4 separate regions of the Homo sapiens genome follow, and regions 1, 2 and 3 are each linked to region 4. The links come from fine-mapping of genetic effects on gene expression. A gene starts in region 4. Each other region holds a variant in brackets. All regions are shown on one strand. Distances are from middle to middle.

What was found. PIP is the estimated chance that this variant, and not a neighbour inherited with it, causes the effect.
Region 1: its variant is fine-mapped to the expression of ELOVL5 in whole blood (TOPMed, PIP above 0.99).
Region 2: its variant is fine-mapped to the expression of ELOVL5 in whole blood (TOPMed, PIP above 0.99).
Region 3: its variant is fine-mapped to the expression of ELOVL5 in whole blood (TOPMed, PIP 0.95).

The regions. Positions count from the first base shown.
Region 1 is chr6:53,241,252-53,246,402 of GRCh38, forward strand. It overlaps LOC124901332 (a long non-coding RNA gene), which reads right to left. Exons shown (of 4, transcript XR_007059612.1): 2 at 4,290-4,361; 3 at 3,020-3,180; 4 at 2,794-2,893. Among named protein-coding and RNA genes, the nearest start is that of MIR5685, 33 kb to the right of the region's middle. The variant C/T (reference allele first, on the strand shown) is at 2,046.
Region 2 is chr6:53,283,956-53,289,106 of GRCh38, forward strand. The region is part of intron 3 of ELOVL5 (ELOVL fatty acid elongase 5); the gene reads right to left. Among named protein-coding and RNA genes, the nearest start is that of MIR5685, 9.5 kb to the left of the region's middle. The variant C/G (reference allele first, on the strand shown) is at 2,051.
Region 3 is chr6:53,122,565-53,127,715 of GRCh38, forward strand. It overlaps GCM1 (glial cells missing transcription factor 1), which reads right to left. Exons shown (of 6, transcript NM_003643.4): 6 at 4,397-5,151. Among named protein-coding and RNA genes, the nearest start is that of GCM1, 24 kb to the right of the region's middle. The variant G/A (reference allele first, on the strand shown) is at 2,799.
Region 4 is chr6:53,346,891-53,352,041 of GRCh38, forward strand. ELOVL5 (ELOVL fatty acid elongase 5) reads right to left here and starts at 2,060. Exons shown (of 8, transcript NM_021814.5): 1 at 1,927-2,060. RefSeq lists a silencer at 1,461-1,900.

The sequences.
Region 1 (5,151 bases), 110 kb before region 4:
CCGCCCTGGCCTCCCAAAGTGCTGGGATTACAGGCGTGACCCACCGCGCCTGGCCAGGGGCACAAACTTTTATTGTGGTTTCTGTGGGAAGGAATGAGTGAGGGAGGGTAATTGGGCTTTGGATTGAATAGTTTGAATCATTTCAGCAGGCTCTGGGCCATACGGGCTATCCCTAGTTGCCTAGTTCCTACTCCTGGGGTGATTAGGGCAGGTGGATAGTGGCCTGGAGGGTGAGAGCCCATAATGGAGGTGGCAGTGTGTGGGCTCTGGATTGATTGGTTTACATTTGTGACGCACCCTCATGGTTGTTTGCTATTTCTAAAAACTGGCTAGTCCTGGGACAGGCATAAAAATACAAAAATAAAAGACATGGTAAATACATTCTCACAGCATGGTGCTGGCTTTGCCCAGAGTAAGCAATCCAAGAGAGCAAGACAGATGCTGCAAAGTCCTTTATGCTCTCAATTCAGAAGTCACATATTATCCCTGCTGAACTCTACACAGACCAGTCCTAATTCAACATGGGAGTAGACTATGCAAATAAATACCTAAGAGGTGAAGATCACTGGGGGCCATCTTGGAGGCTGGGTATTACACATCTGGCAAGTTCCTTGACCTCCAAATGTCAGTGTCTTCACTTAAAAAAGATGGCAATAATATTATGTTACTTTGACTTCTAAGTTGAAAGCGAACAGAAAGTGACTCTGGCTTGCTTAGGCAAAAGAGGAATTTATTGAATCAGTTTTGGACAATTCACACAATAGAAGGGAAGGCTATAGAACCAGGCTTAGCAGAACCTAAGGGAGCTCAGGGAGCAGGGAAAGTCATGCAGGGCAAAGCCTCAGGGTTGGTCTGGTTGGGAAACTGATGTTGACATCAACTGCACTGGCCACCGGATATTGTGGCCAGAGCTAAATGCTCAGCACCACTGCTGCTGAGCAACTCTCAATCGCCTCTGTGCCCTGAAGCTTCCACAGTGTGGGGAGAGTGGAGAAAGGAGGACCAGGTCCCTTCTGCTTCTGGGATTACAGCATATGTCCGCTACAAATATGGGCTTCATGGGATTCACCAAAAATATATGAGCACCTTCCTTGGAAAATCGAGAATGCTCAGTAATGGTTGGTTGCTTAATAGAAAGGAGAAAGCAGATACCGTGGGATGGAATAGAGTGAGTTTGGAGATCTCAAGTTGAGAGTGAGAATAAAGCATGCTCATTACATTTCCAGCCACACTGAGCATTTCTAATCGCACTCTTACCTTGTCTTCACTCCTATGCACATTTGCAAATTCTTAAATTGCTGAGATTTGTACAAATCTTATCTATATACTCTATCCAGTGAACCAAGTTGGAGGCAAGGGAACAGTATGTTATTAAGAAAAGGTAAAGTGAAAGCCTCCTGTGAAAATTGCAATACTGGCTGGGAGCAGTGGCTCATGCTTGTAATCCCAGCACTTTGGGAGAATGAGGTGGGCAGATTAATTGAGGTCAGGAGTTCAAGACTCCTGCTTGGGCAACATAGTGAAACCATGTCTCTACTAAAAATACAAAAATTAGCCAGGTGTGGTGGCGCACGCCTGTAATCCCAGCTACTCGGGAGACCGAGGCAGGAGAATCGCTTGAGTCCAGGTGGCAAAGGTTGCAGTGAGCTGAGATCACACCACCGCACTCCAGCCTGGGCAGCCGAGTGAGACTCCATCTCAAAGCAAAGCAAAGTGTAGAGAAAAGAAAATTGCAACACTAGCCTCTTGGTACCTTGACATGAACCACAATTAACCACACTCTTTAAGTGGTGGTAGCTTCCATTTCTGTCACTGTTACCTTCATAGTACTTTTTTTTTTTTTTTGAGACAGAGTTGCTCCTTCTGCTCACTGCAACCTCCACCTCCTGGGTTCAAGCGATTCTCCTGCCTCAGCCTCCCGAGTAGCTGGGACTACAGGCACATGCCACCATGCCTGGCTAATTTTTTGTATTTTTAGTAGAGACGGGGTTTCACCGTGTTAACCAGGAAGGTCTCGATCTCCTGACCTCGTGATCCGCCCACCT[C/T]GGCCTCCCAAAGTGCTGGGATTACAGGCGTGAGCCACCACACCTGGCCCCTTTATAGTACTTCTATCTCAGTTTGAATTTCCAAGGCAAAGCCAGACACCTTTTCTCACAAAGCCTGTGCTCTGTTGTTAGGTGTGGGCATGAGTCTTGCTGTTCAAACTCAACTATTTCATTCAAAGTGACCTTTCGTGGGTTTACAAATTCATTGAGGTTGAATGTGTAACTAAATTCTAAAATGTTAGTTCTAAACTAAGTTCTAAAATGGTTCTAAAAAGTTCGTATGTAAGGAGCACCAGGAGGGCTTGCTGAAACACCAGTTGCTGGGCCCCACCCCTGGAGTCTCAGGTTCAGCAGGTCTAGGGCGAGGTCGGAGGATGTGCACTTCTAATACGTTCCCAGGTGGTGCTGAGGCTGCTGGTCTGGGGGCCACATTGAGAAACACTGACTTGAATGACTTGATGCTGTTGCTGGCCTGCTTTGTAAACTTCTTAGACCCTATCCAGTAATTGCCTTTCTTTTCTTTTCTTTTCTCTTTTCTTTTTCTTTTTTTTTTTTTTTGAGACAGAGTTTCACTCTTGTTGCCCAGGGTGGAGTGCAATGGTGATATCTTGGCTCAGTGCAACTTCCGCCTCCTGGGTTCAAGTGATTCTCCTACCTCAGCCTCCAAAGTAGCTGCGATTACAGGCATGTGGCACCACACCTGGCTAATTTTTTTGTATTTTTAGTAGAGACAGGGTTTTACCATGTTGGCCAGGCTGGTCTCGAACTCCTGACCTCAAGTGATCCACCCATCTCAGCCACCGCACCCAGCCAGTAATTGCCATTCATAAAGAAAGCCAAGATGACACCTACAGAGCAAAATTATGTGATATTCAGGAATAAACACTGAAACATTATTTTGATTAGAATAATAGCTGCACGGAACAGAAACTTAGCTATAAGAGCTTAAGCAAATAACAGTTTGTTTTTCTTACATTCCCAAGAAGACTAGAAGCTGTGATAGGCTGGTGAAATGACTTCACCTCATCAGGGGTCAAGGCTCTTGCTAACTTTCTCTTCTGTCATCCTTGGTAAATGATCTTTGTCCTCATGGTCACAAGATGGCTGCTGCATCTCCATGTATTGCCTCTGCACTCTAGGCAGGAAAATGAATGATGAAGAAAAATGCATGTATGAGCTTTTCTGAAAGTCCCTCTAGAGACTTCTGTTCCCATCTCATGGGTTAGAACTATGTCACATGGCCACACCAAGCTTCAAGGGAGCCTCAGCACTCATTGACCCACATAAAATGGGGTTCCCGTCGATGAGAAAGGAAGGAAGAATGGGTGGTAATCAGCAGGCTCTGGGATGCACTCACCTGCTTGACTCCCAAAGGGTCACATTGCGTACTCAGGCCAGAGCCACCTACAGTGCTAAACCAGCCACGCAACAAGTGAAAGGGACAGAGAAAAGACATGAAGCCACTTCTGTACTAGCATTTCTTGCCTCCTGCTAATGGGTGTTATATGAAAAGGGAAAACTGAACTAGAACTTCTTTACTATAGACTTCTGAGAAGTTTTATTAAGCTTATGTATGTGATGACATTCCAAGGCAGGAACAAACATACTGCATTTTCCAAGCTTATTTGACCACAGAGGCTTTTTAAAAATTTTTCTGGAGCATCTCTCTGAACTACATTCCATGGAAATTTTTGCCAGAAAACCTTGATATATACAGTGTCAACTATCAGTGTGTTTTTTAAGACTCCTTACGAGAAAAAAAGCCAAGTATGTTCTTCTTACATCAGTGAGATAGTTCTACTTTTTTTAAGGGGAAGGAAATGAAAATAGGAACAGTTTGTGAGTCAGGGCGGGGGGTGTGATACCAGCCTGCCACCTGAGAACCATGCAACCTTGACAGGCCTGGTGGCCTCCCTAGAGTCTCCTGTGGTTTTTTTTTTTTTTTTTTTCTGTGAGACAGAGTCACCCAGGCTGGAGTGCAGTGGTGCGATCTCGGCTTACTGCAACCTCTGCCTCCCGGGTTCAAGTGATTCTCCTGTCTCAGCCTCCAGACTAGCTGGGATTACAGGTGCGTGCTACCACACCTGGCTGATTTTTGTATTTTTAGTAGAGATGGGGTTTCGCCATGTTGGCCAGGCTTGTCTTGAATTCCTGACCTCAGGTGATCCGCCCCCCCTTGGCCTCCCAAAGTGCTGGGATTACAGACATAATCTACCACGCCCGGCCAGAGTCTTCTGTTCTTACTTGCAAAACAAGATCTGTAGGCAAGCACCAGGATGCATCCCAATAAACCAAAATTCTGCAACTTCACAGCTCCTAGAAAGATCAAGAAGGGATGCCTGAATCAATCTTTGGTAATGGGAGATAGAGGATATATGCCCTCCTGTTGGGCGACAGAGTGAAACCCCGTCTCAAACACTGGAGATGGACTCTCGGGGTTTTGACATGTTGGCCAGGCTGGTCTTGAACTCCTGACCTCAGGTGATCCGCCTGCCTTGGCCTCCCAAAGTGCTGGGAGCACAGGTGTGAGCCACCACACCAGGCCTGGTTCTCCCCTTTTAAGGGCTCATGCATTCTATTAAGCTCACCTAGATAATTTAGGATAATCCCCCCATCTCATCACATCTGCAAAGTCCCCTTTGCCATATAAGGTAACATATCTACAAGTTCTAGGAATTAGGACATGGACATCTTGGGACTCATGGGCATTCTGTCTACCATGCAGATGAAATCTATTGTTTAAAGAAGTATAAACAGTGTTGGGAAACTGAAGACTATAACAAAAAATTCAAATTAGGCTTAATAGTATGTGAGACAAGCAGTACAAAAGGTAGAGAAGGTTTATGTGAGAAAAGAAAAGAAAAAAAAACCCAAGAAAGGAGATCAATTACAATACAAGCAAAAGTAGGACAACACTAGTTACGAGCTGGAAGCACGTGAATCCTTTAAGAGCCCGAGCAAAGGGCAAAGGTTTAGTATGGGATTGTTGGAGTTTCTTTCTATTATATATTGTACCTTCACCAATAGAACTAAAAGTCTAAAATCACACTATTTAAAAACCGAGAATGTATCAGCATTAACCAGATTGATCCTACAGGCGCTGCTT
Region 2 (5,151 bases), 63 kb before region 4:
AAGAAAATCAGTAAACACTGATGGCAATAATGGTGATTATTTAGGACCTTAAAAAAAAAAAAAAGTGAGGCCAGATGTGGTGGCTCACGCCTGTAATCCTAGTGCTTTGGGAGGCCAGGGTGGGAGGACTGCCAGAGCCCAGGAATTTGAGACCAGCTTGGGCAACAAAGTGAGACTCCATCTCTACAAAAAATAAAAATATTAGCTGGGCACAGTGGCATGCTCCTGCAGTCCCAGCTGCCTGGGAGGCTGAGGCAGGAAGATCACTTGTGCCCAGGAGTTTGAGGTTACAATGAGCTATGACCATGTCACTGCACTTCAGCCTGGGCAACAGAGCAAGACCATCTTTTTTTTTTTTTAAAAAAAAAGGTAGAAATAACTCCTGACAACAGTAACATGAAAGATGAGGGGTCACAGCTAGAATCCTCTAAGGTCCCTGGTATTGTTTAGGAGAATAGAAATACTGACTCAACTGAAACTGTCGTAAGTTAAAAATGCATGGTAAACATCTATGGGTAACCACTCAACAGAATGAATAACTTTTGAATAAGTACAATAAAAAATAATGGTTACAAAAATTCTACAAAGCAGTAAAGGAGAAAAGAAGGCCAAAGAAAACATATATACACAAAAAAGGTGACAGAAAGTACAGGCATACCTCATCTTTGCTTTATTGCACTTTGTATATATTACAGGTTTTCTTAACTGAGGTCTGTGGCAACTCTGCATTAAGCAACTCTATTGGTACCATTTTTACAACAGCACGTGTTCACTATGTGTTACTGTGTCACATTTTTGTAATTCTCACAATTATAAAATATTTCTCAAAATATTTCAAATTTTTTCACTATTATTATATCTGTTGTGGCGATCTGTGTGTGGTTACTGAACTTTGATGTTACCATTGTAATTGTTTTGAGGTGCCATGAACCACACCTATATAAGACAGCAAACTCAACAAATATTGTCTGTATTTTAGCTGCTCCACAGACTTGCTGTTCCCCCTAACCATCTCTTTCTTCTCTGGCCTCCTTATTTCCTGAGATACAACAATATTGAAATTGGGTTAATAATCCTACAATGGCCTCTAAGTGCTGAAGTGAAAGGAAGAGTAGCATGTCTCTCACTTTACATCAAAAGCTAGAAATGATTAAGCTTAGTGAGGAAGGCAGGTGGAAAGCTGAGACAGGACGAAAGCTGGGCCTCTCGTACCAGGTTAGCCACGTTGTGAATGCAAAGGAAAAGTTACTGAAGGAAATTAAAAGTGCTACTCGTATGAACATAAAAATGATGAGAAAGCATTAGTAGCCTTATTGCTGAAAGTTTGAGTGGTCTAGGTAGAAGATCAAACCAGCCATAACATTCCCTTAAGCCAAAATCTAATCCAGAGCAAGCCACTAACTCACTTCAATTCTGTGAAGCCTGGGAGAGGTGATGAAGCTGCAGAAGAAAAGCTTGAAAATAGCAGAGGATAGCTCATAAGGTTTAAGGGAAGAAGTCATCTCCATAACACAAAAGGGCAAGGTGTAGCAGCAAGTGCTGCTATAGAAGCTGCAGCCAGTTATCTGGAAGATTTAACTAAGATCACTGACGAACATGGCTACACTAAACTGTAGCACATACCACTGCACCTGGGAGCATTTTTATTTTTAATTTATCTTTTTTTTCTTATAAATAGGGTTTTACTCTGTCACCCAGGCTGGAGTGCAGTGGTGTGGTCATAGCTCACCGGAACCTTGAGCTCCTGGGCACAAGCCATCCTCCCACCTCGGCCTCCCAAGTAGCTAGGACAACAAGCTCGAGCCATGCCAGGCTAGTTATAAAATTTTTTGTAGAGAGAGGATCTTGCTATGTTGCCCAGGCTGGTCTCAAACTCCTGGCCTCAAGCAATTCTCCCACCTCGGCCTCTCAAAGTGCTAGGATTACAGATGTACACCATTGTGCCTGGCCAGCATTTTTAAATTTAGGTATGTCTACTGTTTTTTTTTAAGATTTAATGCGATTGCACACTTAATAGACCATAATGTAAACATAACTTTTATATGCACTG[C/G]GAAACCAAAAATGGTATGACTTACTTTATTGCAATACTCATTTTATTGCAGTGATCTGCAACTAATGCTGCAATATCTGAGGTATAAAATAACTATTAACATGCTAAATGAAAATGAATTAAATTTCCCCATTAAAGACAAGAGACTGTCGGATTCAGTCATTAAACCCCTATGCATTTATCTGGTCAAAAAACTTACCATATTTGCATAAGGAGATATGTCTAAGAAGATTCTTGGCACACTGTTAATTGAACAACTTGCATAAACCCACATAGCTGGGCACAGTGGCTCACACCTGTAATCCTAGCACTTTGGGAGGCTGATGTGGGAGGATCACTTTGAGTCCAGGAGTTTGAGATCAGTCCAGGCAACACCGTGAGACAATGTTTCTACCAAAAATAAAAAAATTAGCCAGGCATGGTGGCACATGCCTGTAGTCCCAGCTACTCAGGAGGCTGAGGTGGGAGGATCGCTTAAGGCCAGGAGTTCTAGGCTGCAGTGGGTGAGGTATGATTGTGCCACTGAACTCCAGCCGGGGTAACAGAGCCGGACTCTGTCTCAAAAAACAACAACAAAAAACAATCTAACAACATACATATCCATCCAAAGAAACACTTATAAAATGGTGTAATAAATTCCAACACTGAAATAATACAAAGCAGATAAAATGAATTTCTAATTAACTATAATTAACATAATTATAATTAATGAATTACATCTATACGACTCAAGATGAATTGGTCAAAAATATACTGACTGAAAAAAATCTATTTGAAAAAGAGTTTAATTAGTATACCATTCACGTATGGTTTTTAAAAACTATCTTAGAACGTACTATGTGTTGTCATGTATACATATATATGTAGTAAAAATACATCCAGAGAAAAACTGTACAAATTTCCGAAGAAGTCTGGAAAGGGACTGTACTTTAGATGCATTTTTGTAATGTTTTCTTATTTAAACAAACAAACAAAAATCAAGCATTTGTTAGGTGCACAGATATCATCTATATAATTTTATTTTAAATATTTTCAAATAGTTCCAAAATTACAATTTAAAATAAAAATTGAAAAGGGGAAGAAAGATAAGTTTGGATTTATGCCAAGCCAGATGCATCCATCCAGCTTTTTCAAAATTACAAATTTTTTTCTTTCAAAATTACATTTTAAATGTTCTGAATATTTTAAAGCGCATTCTCTCACACTATTCACAACATATAGTTCTAACTGCAAGGGAGGAAACATACACAGATACTCAAAAAATAATCTTGTCTGTAACCCATGATTTATCTTTGACTACTAAATAACTTGAAAATGTGGTTCCGACATTTGCTTATTTTTGTATTCTAATACTCAGGATCCATTTGGTGGAGTAATCAGGTATAGTAACAGTGGGATGAAGAAGGTGGGGAAAACATTGTTTCATTCTAGCCTAAGCCAGTGAGTGTCAGTGGGGCAAGGATGGGATGCTAAGGGGCACATCATGAGAGTACTTTGAAAGGAATGCATCATAGTCCGTGGGAACAATGGGATAGCCAAAGAGGCTGGGAGAAAAAAAAATTCACTCTCTAGAGTTGAGTCCTCTTCCTTAGTACGCTCATGGCTTCACAGAGGAATTGGATCCTTCCACACAGTCCTCAAAAGTGAGAGGGAGACTGCCAGGCAGAAGTGGGAGTTTTAAGGGGTAGAGCCCAGAAGAATGAAAGAGCCTGGTGTTGCTGGGGTTTGAGTAGAGCTCAGCATAACAGATCGGCTAAGAAAGGCCGGAGTGCCTCCTTCTGAGGAAAGGAGCCAGCCATCCTTTCAACACAGTGTTCCTGGGGAATTCAAAGCCATGTGCACTGCACAACACTGACCCTGTTTTCTGGCAGCTGCTGCTGAGTCGAAGGATCAGTTCGTGAGGCACAGGCAGATCGACGGGGTTGCTCCCTTTTGGACTGTAACAAACACAATTAGATCCTCTCTGCTTAGGGTCTAAGAGGTCTGAGGCACAGCAGGAGAAGAGTAGACACATTGAATGGCTTCACATGAGGACAGAGCATCTGCCTAAGAGGGAAACCACCTGTAACACTCTAACAAAGGAGTTAAAAGTGGCTTTGATAGCTCACTGGATGGGTCAGGGGAAACCTGATCCAACCAGGTAGATAAGGCAGAGTGAGGGAAAGCCACCGTTTGGCACCATGTATGTAGAGGTTCTCAATTTTGGGACTGGAGACAAGAGAAAAGACACATGGATAGTGCAAAAAATCAGGCTTCTCTTCAGAGGACAAATGCCCTGAATCTCGGGTGGCTAAAAGGCGCACAAGATTTTTAAGTTTGCTGTAAGGGCATCGTTTTACAAAGCTAAGTAACTAATGCAAACTAAGTTGTTTCTCTTCTATAACCTGGAATTTCATTTCCGAGCTTTCACCATGGACTGTGATATTAGACAACCCCTAATAAGCAAAAGCAAAAAGGATTGCTATAAAGTCCAATACTTTCAAATTAAAACATACCACTAATTCAAATATGCTCCAAATCAGGGATCTATGACCTTTTTCCTGGAAATAAACACTAAAGTTAATGAGATATAGAAGTAATACCTCTTCTCTCCTTTTAATTTTGTTTCTACCAAGTACACAAACTATGAGCAAGTCTATATTCCTTCTACATTTTAAACTCGGTTTCACAGTTTTAAAACTGGGATTTAGTTATTTTCCTTCTAGTAAATTTAAAGTTTCAGTGACTTCCTTTCATTTCCTTCTGATCATCTCCCTTCTTTCAAGACTTCTTCCTATTGGCCAGATGTAGTGGCTCATGTCTGTAATCTCAGCACTTTGGGAGGCAGAGGTGGGTGGATTGCTTGAGCCTAAGAGTTCAAGACTAGCCTGGACAACATGATGAAACCTTGTCTTTACGAAAAATACAAAACTTAGCTAGACGTGGTGGCATGCTCCTGTAGTCCCAGCCACTTGGGAGGTTGAGGCGGGAGATCAGTTGAGCCCAGGAGGCGAGAAGCAGTGAGCACCACTGCACTCCAGCCTGGGCAACAGAGTGAGACTCTGTCTCAAACAAACAAAAAAACCCCGCTTCTTCCTGTCTCCTTTAAGTGACAGTTAATT
Region 3 (5,151 bases), 220 kb before region 4:
TCAAGTAAGCCACCCACCTTGGCCTCCCAAAGTGCTGGGATTACAGGAGTGAGCCACCATGCCCAACCCCTTTCACATTTTTCTATTTGTATTTTATCTTAACCTTAACAGGTTTGAATCCTTACACTCAGGATTCAATGTAATATCCTGTAACATTTTCTAGGCCCAAGTGTCTTTCTTGCCCTCAGTCAATGCTCACTAAACAGAGCAGATGCCGTTTTGCCTGGCAGAGCAGCCCACATAAGCACAGCACCCAGGATGAGAGCATTCTTAGGTGCTCCGTGAAAATTTGTTGAATGCAATACTCATCTGAAAAAAGTTCCAAAAAGACAACCGGAAAAAAGAAAGAAAAAAATTTTTGAAAAATATAAGAACATATCCAAGAAATAAAAAATATGAATGATTATATTAAAAGCCACTGGCCGGGCGCGGTGGCTCATGCCAGTAATCCCAGCACCTTGGGAGGCTGAGGCAGGTGGATCACAAGGTCAGGAGATGGAGACCATCCTGGCTAAGACAGTGAAACCCCGTCTCTACTAAAAATACAAAAAATTAGCCAGACGTGGTGGCGGGCGCCTGTGGTCCCATCTGCTCAGGATGCTGAAGCAGAAGAATTGCTTGAACCTGGGAGGCAGAGGTTGCAGTGAGCCGAGATCATGCCACTGCCCTCCAGCCTGGGCGACAGAGCGAGACTGTCTCAAAAAAAAAAAAAAAAAGCCTCAGGGCCTTATACAATGAATAAAAAATGAAAAGGCCCATTCAAGCCTTATTGTCATGAAATTTCAAGTAACGAGAAATAATTAAACTATCTGAAAGCTCCTAGAGAGAAAAAGCAGGCCATGTTCAAAGGACCAGAAATCTAAATGATATCCAGACTTCTCAACAGCAGCTCTGAATACTAGAGGACAGTGGACCAGTAACTTCAGATTTTTGAACTTTTTTGAGACAGTCTCACTCTGTTGCCCGGGCTGGAGTGCAGTGGCACGATCTTGGCTCACTGCAACCTCTGCCTCCCAGGTTCAAGCGATTCTTCTGCCTCAGCCTCCCGAGCAGCTGGGACCACAGGCATGGGCCACCACACCTAGCTAATTTCTTTTTTTGTATTTTTAGTAGAGATGGCGTTTGACCACATTGGCCAGGCTGGTCTCAAACTCCTGACCTTGTGATTCACCTGCCTCGGCCTCCCAAATTGCTGGGATTACAGGCAGGCATGAGCCACTGCGCCCAGCCTTTTTTCTTTTTTTTGGACAGAGTTTTGCCCTTGTACCCCAGGCTTGAGTGCAACGGAGCGATCTCGGCTCACTGCAACCTCTACCTCCCAGGTTCAAGTGATTCTCCTGCCTCAGCCTCCCCAGTAGCTGGGCCTACAGGCATGCGCCACTACACCTGGCTAATTTTGTTTTTGTATTTTTAGTAGAGACGGGGTTTCACCATGTTGGCCAGGCTGGTCTCGAACTCCTGACCTCAGGTGATCCACCCACCTTGCCCTCCCAAAGTGCTGGGATTACAGGCGTGAGCCGCTGCACCTGGCCATTTTGTATGAAAATTACTTTCAACCTGCATTTCTAATCTCAGGTAAACTCTGTGCCAAGTCAAAGAACAAAAACAAAAACCAAGTATGTGATTAAGACATTTCCAGGCATTCAAGTGCTCCAAAAATGTATCTCCCATGGATCTTTTCTTAGAGAACTAGTAGGGTGTGTGCTCTACCAAAATGATGAAATACACCCAGAATAAGAAAGACATGAACCCAATCAAGAGGGGAGGAAAGTAAGCCCAAAGATGAAGGAGCAACAGGATCAGACAGCAGCCTGCCCACACTTGTTCAGAGATAAAAGGCTCCAGGAGTTGCTGGGGGCTGGGGATCCCAGAGGGAATTGACTGCAAAAGGCACAGCAGGACTTTTCAGGGGAACTGCCATGTTCTATATCTTGATTTTGGTGAGGTTTCATTGTATACAATGACCACATGTACAGTGTTCAAAACTCTGTAAAATGAGTGGAGTTTTTTGTTTGTTTGTTTTTCGTTTTGAGACGGAGTTTCGCTCTTGTTGCCCAGCCTGAAGCGCAATGGCGCAATCTCGGCTCACCGCAACCTCCACCTCCCCTGTTCAAGTGATTCTCCTGCCTCAGCCTCCTGAGTAGCTGGGATTACAGGCATGTGCCAGCACGTCCGGCTAATTTTGTATTTTTAGTAGAGACGGGGTTTCTCCATGTTGGTCAGGCTGGTCTCAAACTGCCAACCTCAGGTGATCCGCCCATCTCAGCCTCCCAAAGTGCTGGGATTACAGGCATAAGCCACTGTGCCTGGCTGAGTTGTGTTTTATTGTATGTAAACTGTACTTCAATACAACTGATCTTTGTAATTTGCTGGAAGAATGCATGATCTAGGCGGAGAGTGGTGCATATGTCCTAAATCCTAATCTATAGTCAGAAAACAATAGACATATAAAACTAAAAGATGTGTAAGCACATTCTCTAGTAATACAGAGGTAACTACTAGAAATAACTCAAGGAGTTAAAAAGCGGAAACCTCTTGGAGGGGTGGGAATAGGACTTGGGAGTAGAGACAGCTGTTGTTCATAGTAAGCTTTGTGATGCCAGCTGACCTTTAAGCTACGTACATGTTCTTACTTTGATAAATATCAATATAATAGTTTTTTGGATTTTATTTATTTATTTTTATTTTTTTGAGACAGGATCTGGCTCTGTCACGCAGACTGGAGTGCAGTGGCACAATCATGGCTCACTGCAGCCTCAACCTCTTGGGCTATAGCAATCCTCTTGCTTCAGCCTCCC[G/A]AGTAGCTGGGACTACAGGTGCACACCACCACACCCAGCTAATTTTTAAAATATTTTTTAGAGTCTTGCTATGTTACCCAGGCTGGTCTCAAACTCCTAGGCTCAAGCGATCCTCACACCTCGGCCTCCCAAGGTGCTGGAATTAGAGGCATGAGCCATCATGCCTGGCTAAGATTATAGTTTTTGAAAGTGAGAAAAGGTTTGGAATAACAGGATGCCTAGTCTGGTGGAGGTAAAATGTTTGCAATACCCAGAAAGCTTTGGACCAACAGGAGCTAAAGTTTCCTTCAGACAGTTACTGTTTATTTAGCTCTTTCATTTCATTTAGAGTGAGAATAAAGAAATGTATTACAGCAATGAAAATAACAAATTACAGCTACCCTCTTATGGATACAATGTTGAGCAGAAAAGGCAAGATCATAAAAAAATGTACACTAACTAGATGATAGCTAGACTGGTGTGTTCTTATGACAATTGAGCTCTATGCTATGAGCTGTGGATTCTTCTATATGTACATTACACTTCAATTAATTCTTTAAAGTATACCATATGATTCTATTTGTTAGGCTCCCCAAAAAGACCACACGAAACTATAGTTTAGGGATACATACAAAGGTAGTAAAAATGTAAAGAGCCAGTCTAGTGATCACCTTTGGGATACAGGGAGAGGGTTGTGGATGGGATTGAAATCCACAGTAAGGGGAACTTCTGCAGTGCCAGTAGATCCTATTTCTTGGTCCAGATAGTGTTTACACAAGTATTCACTTTACAATTCTGCTAAACTGAATATATAAGGTTTTTATTGATTGATTGATTGAGACTCTGTCATCCAGGCTGGAATGCAGTGGCACAATCATGGCTCACTGATTTGATAAGCATCGACCTCCCTGACTCAAGTGATCCTCCTGCCTCCAAAGTAGCTGAGACTACAGGTCCAAGTAGCTGAGACTACAGGTATGCATGATGACATCCAGCTAATTTTTAATTTTTGGTAGAGACGGGGTCCCGCTATGTTGCCCAGGCTGGTCTTGAACTCCTGGGCTCAAGTGATCCACCCGCCTTTGCCTCCAAAAGTGCTGGGGTTACACGTGTGAGCCACCATGCCTGGCCAATATATAAGTTTTATATATAGTCTTGTCACTTAGACAAATGAATTTAGAAGATTTGAACAAATCTAAATGTTTATCAATAGGGACTATTTAATTATAATAGTCATGTAATGCATAATGCATCATTAAAAATGAAGCAGCTGTGATCCTATATGCTTATAAGAACTTAATGCTCAAATTGGCTCCTAAAACGACAAAAACTATGTTAGAAATGAATCTGATATGATACCACTTATGTCATCTCTCTCTTATATATATATATAAATATATTTTATATATAAAAGATATGTGTGTATTTTATGTAATGTATTTCATACACATTACATATAATTATATATATGCAGAGAACATTTCTAATATCTGGAATAATAGACAAGAAACTAGTCAGTGTTGCAGAGGGGAGACTAGAACTAGGAGACTTCTTTTTTTTCACTTTTGAATTTTGTATCATGTGCATCTGTTACTATTCTAATAAAGGAGAAGGAATAATTTATTTCAAAAATACTTGTTTATTGCATGGTTCTCTCCAGATTTTATGTCTAGGCTTACTTTTATCATAAAGTACTTCAGCAAAGAAGAGAAACTGGCATTCAAACATGGCCGGCCAATCATTGCCAGGCTAATTGCACAAGAGCTTCTCCAAGCAAATATTTCTCACCTATTACAAACCCCACATTGATATAGGTGCCACAAATAATAAATGGGATAAAACAGAAGCCCCTGTGCAAGGGGAAGTCAGTGAGGAAGAGGGAAGGAAACAAGAGGCAAGGAGACCACGCACATCACTAGTGTTTCTCTTCATATGGCAATTTAACATTGCTGTTCTTTGTCTTTATGAAAAATGGGGTTAGGTCAGGTTCCTTGTCATCACAAGTCTCAGAAATCATCTAGAAAACATATATTTTACACACTAGTCTCACAACTAGACAACATATTCAGTACTTCAGTGGTAGAATCTTCAGCTTTTCACACCTTAGGCAGTTCTTCCACCATCTATTTCTGTTTCTTCATTCTCAGTTCCCAAGAAGGCATAGATCAGGTCCTAGATAGGTTAGCATTTCACATGTCTACTCCATTTCATTTGCAACAATGACAATGAAAACCCAGCATGCAATGTGGCTGAGGTGCTGGGAACCCCAAACAATGTGGGGGAAAAAGCAGAGGGCACTTCACACCCCAGACGGGACAGGTTTCCATTCCTTACTGAGGGTGGAAATACTAGAGTGGAGGAGAAGAAGCCAAAA
Region 4 (5,151 bases):
AGAAGAAGCTGTTGATTTCAGGGAATGGGAAGGAAACATTTTCAAACCACCATTTGGCAGACTCAATGCTGGGCTCTCATTTGCATTATCTCTTGAAATCCACAATGATCCTGCCACATAAAATCCCCATGTATAGACAAGGAAATTGAGTCAAGGAGGTGAGGTCAATATCTGAAGTTACAAGATATTTTTCTTGAAAAACATCAAATTTTAGTAAGCCTTCTACTGTCGCTTTTCAGCAAAGTTCTGTACTACATTCTGTAACATTACCTATCTGTAACTATCAATAAAAATTTCCCCTTTGTCTTCAATTAGAAATAGAAACGAAAATGCAAAAAGAGAAACAGTACAGAAAAAGTTCCTGGCAATAAGAAGTTAGAATCTAGGGTAAAAATCTAAAAGGAAAATGAGTAACATTTCCCTTTCAAGTGCAGAGCTTTCCTGGAGAATCCCAGGCAGTGTCTGAGCTACCAGAAAAGTAACCCACTTGTCCCCAATCACAGATGGAAGGCTAAAATGTTTGTCCACGGCCATCTAATGCAAAACCGCCTGTTTCTATCTGTAGATTCTGCACGAAATGCTTTTGGCTGAGACGTGCAAGCAAAACAAGTGCAGACCAACAGGTTATCTGCCAAGCGGTTAGGAGAATGAGTTACAAAACCTGACAAGCAACATCAGCTCTTCCGTACAATTCTATGAAGCACTTCCTGCCACGGGTCCCGCTATTTAAAACAAATTAGGCTGCTCGCTCCCCACAAATCCCATCTAGCACCTCTCGGTTCCTCAGTCTAGCTAATAAACCATGCACTGGATTCTTCCGAAAGAGACCCCCCGCCCCCGACCCCGCCACCTCCGCCACTTTGCATAACTGGCCAAATGCATTCTCCAAATTTGCAATCAAGGAGCTTAATTCACAATTGTGGATGGGGCGGGGGGAACCGCCAAGTGCAAGAACACGGAACGGTTGCAAGACGCAGTTCAGCAAGAACAACTCTTGCTCTAGGCATTGCTCCGTCGACCCGAGGTGGTGGGGTGGGAGAGTCTTACCGGCGTGGAAACAGTAAAAAGGCACTTTTCCTTACAACTCGCAAGACAACACACACTCTAGCTCCCCCGGCGCAGAGCACAACCGCCCCCCCGCCGCGCGCCTCCCTCGCAGCCAACCGCTCCCGCCTCTCCAGGGATCAGGCTCCCAGAAAGGGCCGCCCCGGTCGCCCCCGAGTCCCCGCCCTCTCGCTTTCCCACCAGCCTCATCCCTCCCTGAGTACCAAGGGCTGCCGTTGTCTGGTTTCAATAAAAACTGAAGCGGTCCCGAGCTAGCAGGCTTCCCTCCGAGGGGCGGACGGAAGGTCCGCAGGGTTAACGGAAGCGGAGAGAACAGGACAAAAAGGAAAGGCCGGAGAGTCCCCCCAGCGGCGCCCGGTGCCCGCAGACCCTCGCACAGGCTCTTCGAACTCACCCGGGTTTCGCCGACTCCAAAGAAAGCGCGCTCCCTCCGAGAGCGCTCCCCCGGCTCTCCCGCCGCGCGCTCCGGCCCGCAGGGCGGGAGGACCCAGGCGGACAGATCCATCCCTCCGCGTCTGGTGTGGGCACGGTGTCGTGCCCCGCGGCGCCTGTCAGCGCGCACAGGTGGGACCGCAGCACAGAGAACGCTCCCGAGCGCCCTGCCTCAGCCTCGGCGTGGGGCGAGCCGCCCGCGCCCGCACCCGCACCCCTTTCCCCGCGCCCGAGGAGCCGGGCTGTACCCCGGAGCCGGCGGAGCTGGAGGCCGCGGGCGGAGCGCGGGTTGCCCCGGCAGCTCTTTCTCGGCACCAGGTCCGAGACCTAACGGCAGTTCTCTCTGACCGCTTCCCGGCCGCGCGCTCGCGCGGGTGTCATGGCCGAGCGGCGGCCCCCGACGAAGTTTCCCGGAGCTGACGGCTTTACCTTTTAGCCCAAGGGGCGGCAGCAGCTTTGAGCAGCAGCAAGGCGGCGGCGGCGGAGGGAGCGCGGGTGGCAGCCGGCGCAGAGGCGGATGTAGAAGGAGACACCGGTGGCTAGGACCCGCGCGATGGGAAGAGGAAGGCGCCGGCTATCTACAATCAGAACGTGGGCTGACCGTGACGTCACAATGGCGCGGCCAGCCAATCGGGACCCGAAGGATGAATCAAGCGCTATGATGTCATGCGGCCCGGGAGCCAATCGCGGGACAATAGAACTTTCGTGATCGTAAATTCCAGAATCCGATGCGGTGGAGAGCCTAGGCCGGGGTTGGCCCCTCGGTTCCACGTGTCTCTGGGAAATTTTTTTCCCCTTTCTTCCTAATAAGCCTGCGTGGAACGCAGAGCCTGCGCAATAGCCCCGGTGAAGTTGTCGATGCCCTGAACTCTGGTTTTTTTACTGCCAGGCGTGGCAGGAGTCTGTGGCCGCATTTGGGTGGCAGAAGCCCACCCTCGTTACGGTCTCCTCTATGAGTTATGTCATGCTGAAGGGGATCCACTTCATCGTTAAAGCTGAAAGGGTTAAATGCCCACGGAGACCGCCGGAGTGAAGGTCTGCAGTTGAACAAGATAAAGGAACAAGAACAAAACGACTCAAAACTGTTGTAACCATAACTCCCTTGCAAAGGATTTACCGTGTATTTTTCTTAGGGATTCTGATTTTTCTTTGGAAGCCACTATCAACTCCATTTCTACTCTAGAAATTATTCTAAAGGATTGTTAAATGAGGAAAGATGGAATCAGTGTCTTTTCAGCTAAGCATATTTAAGCACTTAAGACAAAGGGGGTTCAGGGCATAAACGGAAGATCCTTGCTGTTTTTCACTGATATTTGGATAATTAAAGACCTTCATTAGCTTTGTATCCTACTGTTTCCCCATTCAAACCCCAGAGATTTAGCCTTTCTTCGTGTGCCCCTCTTGCTGTATTCTTACTCCTCTATGTGCATCCACCTAACAGTCGGCTATTTAATGTAGGCAAATTTATTCTTTTTTTTCTTTTTTTTTCTTTTTTGAGACAGAGTCTCGCTCTGTTGCCCAGGCTGGAGTGCAGTGGCGCGATCTCAGCTCACTGCAACCTCCACCTTCCGGGTTCAAGCGATTCTCCTGCCTCAGCCTCCCAAGTAGCTGGAATTACAGGCACGCGCCACCACACCCGACTAATTTTTGTATTTTTAGTAGAGATGAGGTTTCGCCATGTTGGCCAGGCTGGTCTCGAACTCCTGACCTCAGGTAATCCGCTCGCCTCAGCTTGCCAAAGTGCTGGGATTACAGACGTGAGTCACCGAGCCTGGCCGGCAAATTTATTCTTTTACATATTTACAATGTAATGCTTATCACGTGCCAGCTGTGTTCCAGGCAGTGGGCCATTGCAATAGGAATGCAAGTATACAAACCATGTACAAATTAAGTAAATTAAACATATACAAAGAATCGAGATTGTCAGTTGCCATTGAGCTCCACAAACACTGAATGACTTCAATTTGCTAGATACTATGTTAGGTATTCAAAATTTGAAACCTTCAAGGACTTCTTGGGCCTGGAAAATGATACAGTCAGGAAGCAACTACAATGCAGAGTGGTAAATGCTGCTATGGACATCAAGGGACATGAGAAAAGCATATGCTGGTGGCATAGACTATTTTTTTGAGATATCTCCTTCATTCTTCACGCTTCTGCCAGTAGTCCAAGGCCAGGGTTCATCTCTGTCATCCCATCTAAGTTTTGCCTTTCCAGGTTTTAAAAGTTTCTAATTTAACTTGAGATTCCAAAAGTCTTAAGTTTTACGCCGCACTTGTTTGAATTGTGCTTACCTATCAATAAAATGTTTTAAGCCCATTTGACCAAAATATCTTTAAGTTCAGGCTTATATAACTGTCAAGCTATGCATTAAATATCAAGTGATTTTTCTTATTGTATGATTAAGTATGACGTTTTGCTGTTTTTTCCCATCCCCCAAAGGCTGCGTTTTTACACAGTTCTTTGTTGATGTGTGTATCTTGGTTTCCATTATAGCATCACCACCCTGTATTGTAGTTGCTTTCTGATGGCATCATCTCACTCAATCCTTGGGGTATATGTACCCCACTTTAAAGACCACCGCTTTAGGTAGTAAACTCCGTTGAAGGGGAAAACATGTTGAATTTTGCTCCTTATTGATCTGTAGATCTTAGTACAATCCCTGGCATATAAGGGCTCAATAAATACGTGTTAGATGAGTGAATCTGTGAACAGTTACTCCCCCTCACCATCACCATCACTTTTCAGCTCCAGAGTTCCAATCCTCTGTCAGATAGTCACATCCCAGGATTATTAGATTATTAACTCCTCTCAAACATGTTGGTACGGTCATGTTCTCATTAGTTCTCCAGCCAGAGACTTAGAGTTCTCAGAACATATATATATATGCAAATGTATTATTTTACATATTACAATGTAATGTTTATCATGTGTCATATATCTCTGGGGGAAACTTCCTCCCACCCTAACAATTACTTCGTATTTCTGCATCATTGCACTCATGAGTAAAGCTGTAAGAAAAACAGTGGAGCCGAAACGACTCCCCAACTTAACTGTGGGATTTTTTCCAAATAAATCAAAAGAATACCTAGGATCCAATGCCAGGCTTACTAAATAACAGGGCTCAAGGAACCTGTTTTAGGTAGCATCAGAATCAGATTCCTGGCCAGCTGGGTTCTGGAAACTGTGCTGAAGCCATCCTTGCCCTTCTAACCCACCTATCCAACAATGTGAGCCCATGTAAGGTACAGTTAACAAAACCTTGTAACTATTACCTGTTTGTTCATAGCATCCACATGGTAGTCCCCCAAGAAATGATTGTTGAATTATCTTCATTCAATAGCTAACTATTAATATTTTCTTCTTTCTCCTTCATGTATTTATTTATTTATTTATTTATTTATTTTTGAGATGGAGTTTCGCTCTTGTTGCTCAGGCTGGGGTGCAATGGCACGATCTTGGCTCATTGCAACCTCCACCTCCCAGGTTCAAGCAATTCTCCTGCCTCAGCCTCCCAAGTAGCTGGGAGCGCCCGCCACCACACCTGGCTAATTTTTTTGTATTTTTAGTAGAGATGGAGTTTCGCCATGTTGGCCAGGCTGGTCTTGAACTCCCGAACTCAGGTGATCCACCCACCTCGGCCCCCTAAAGTGC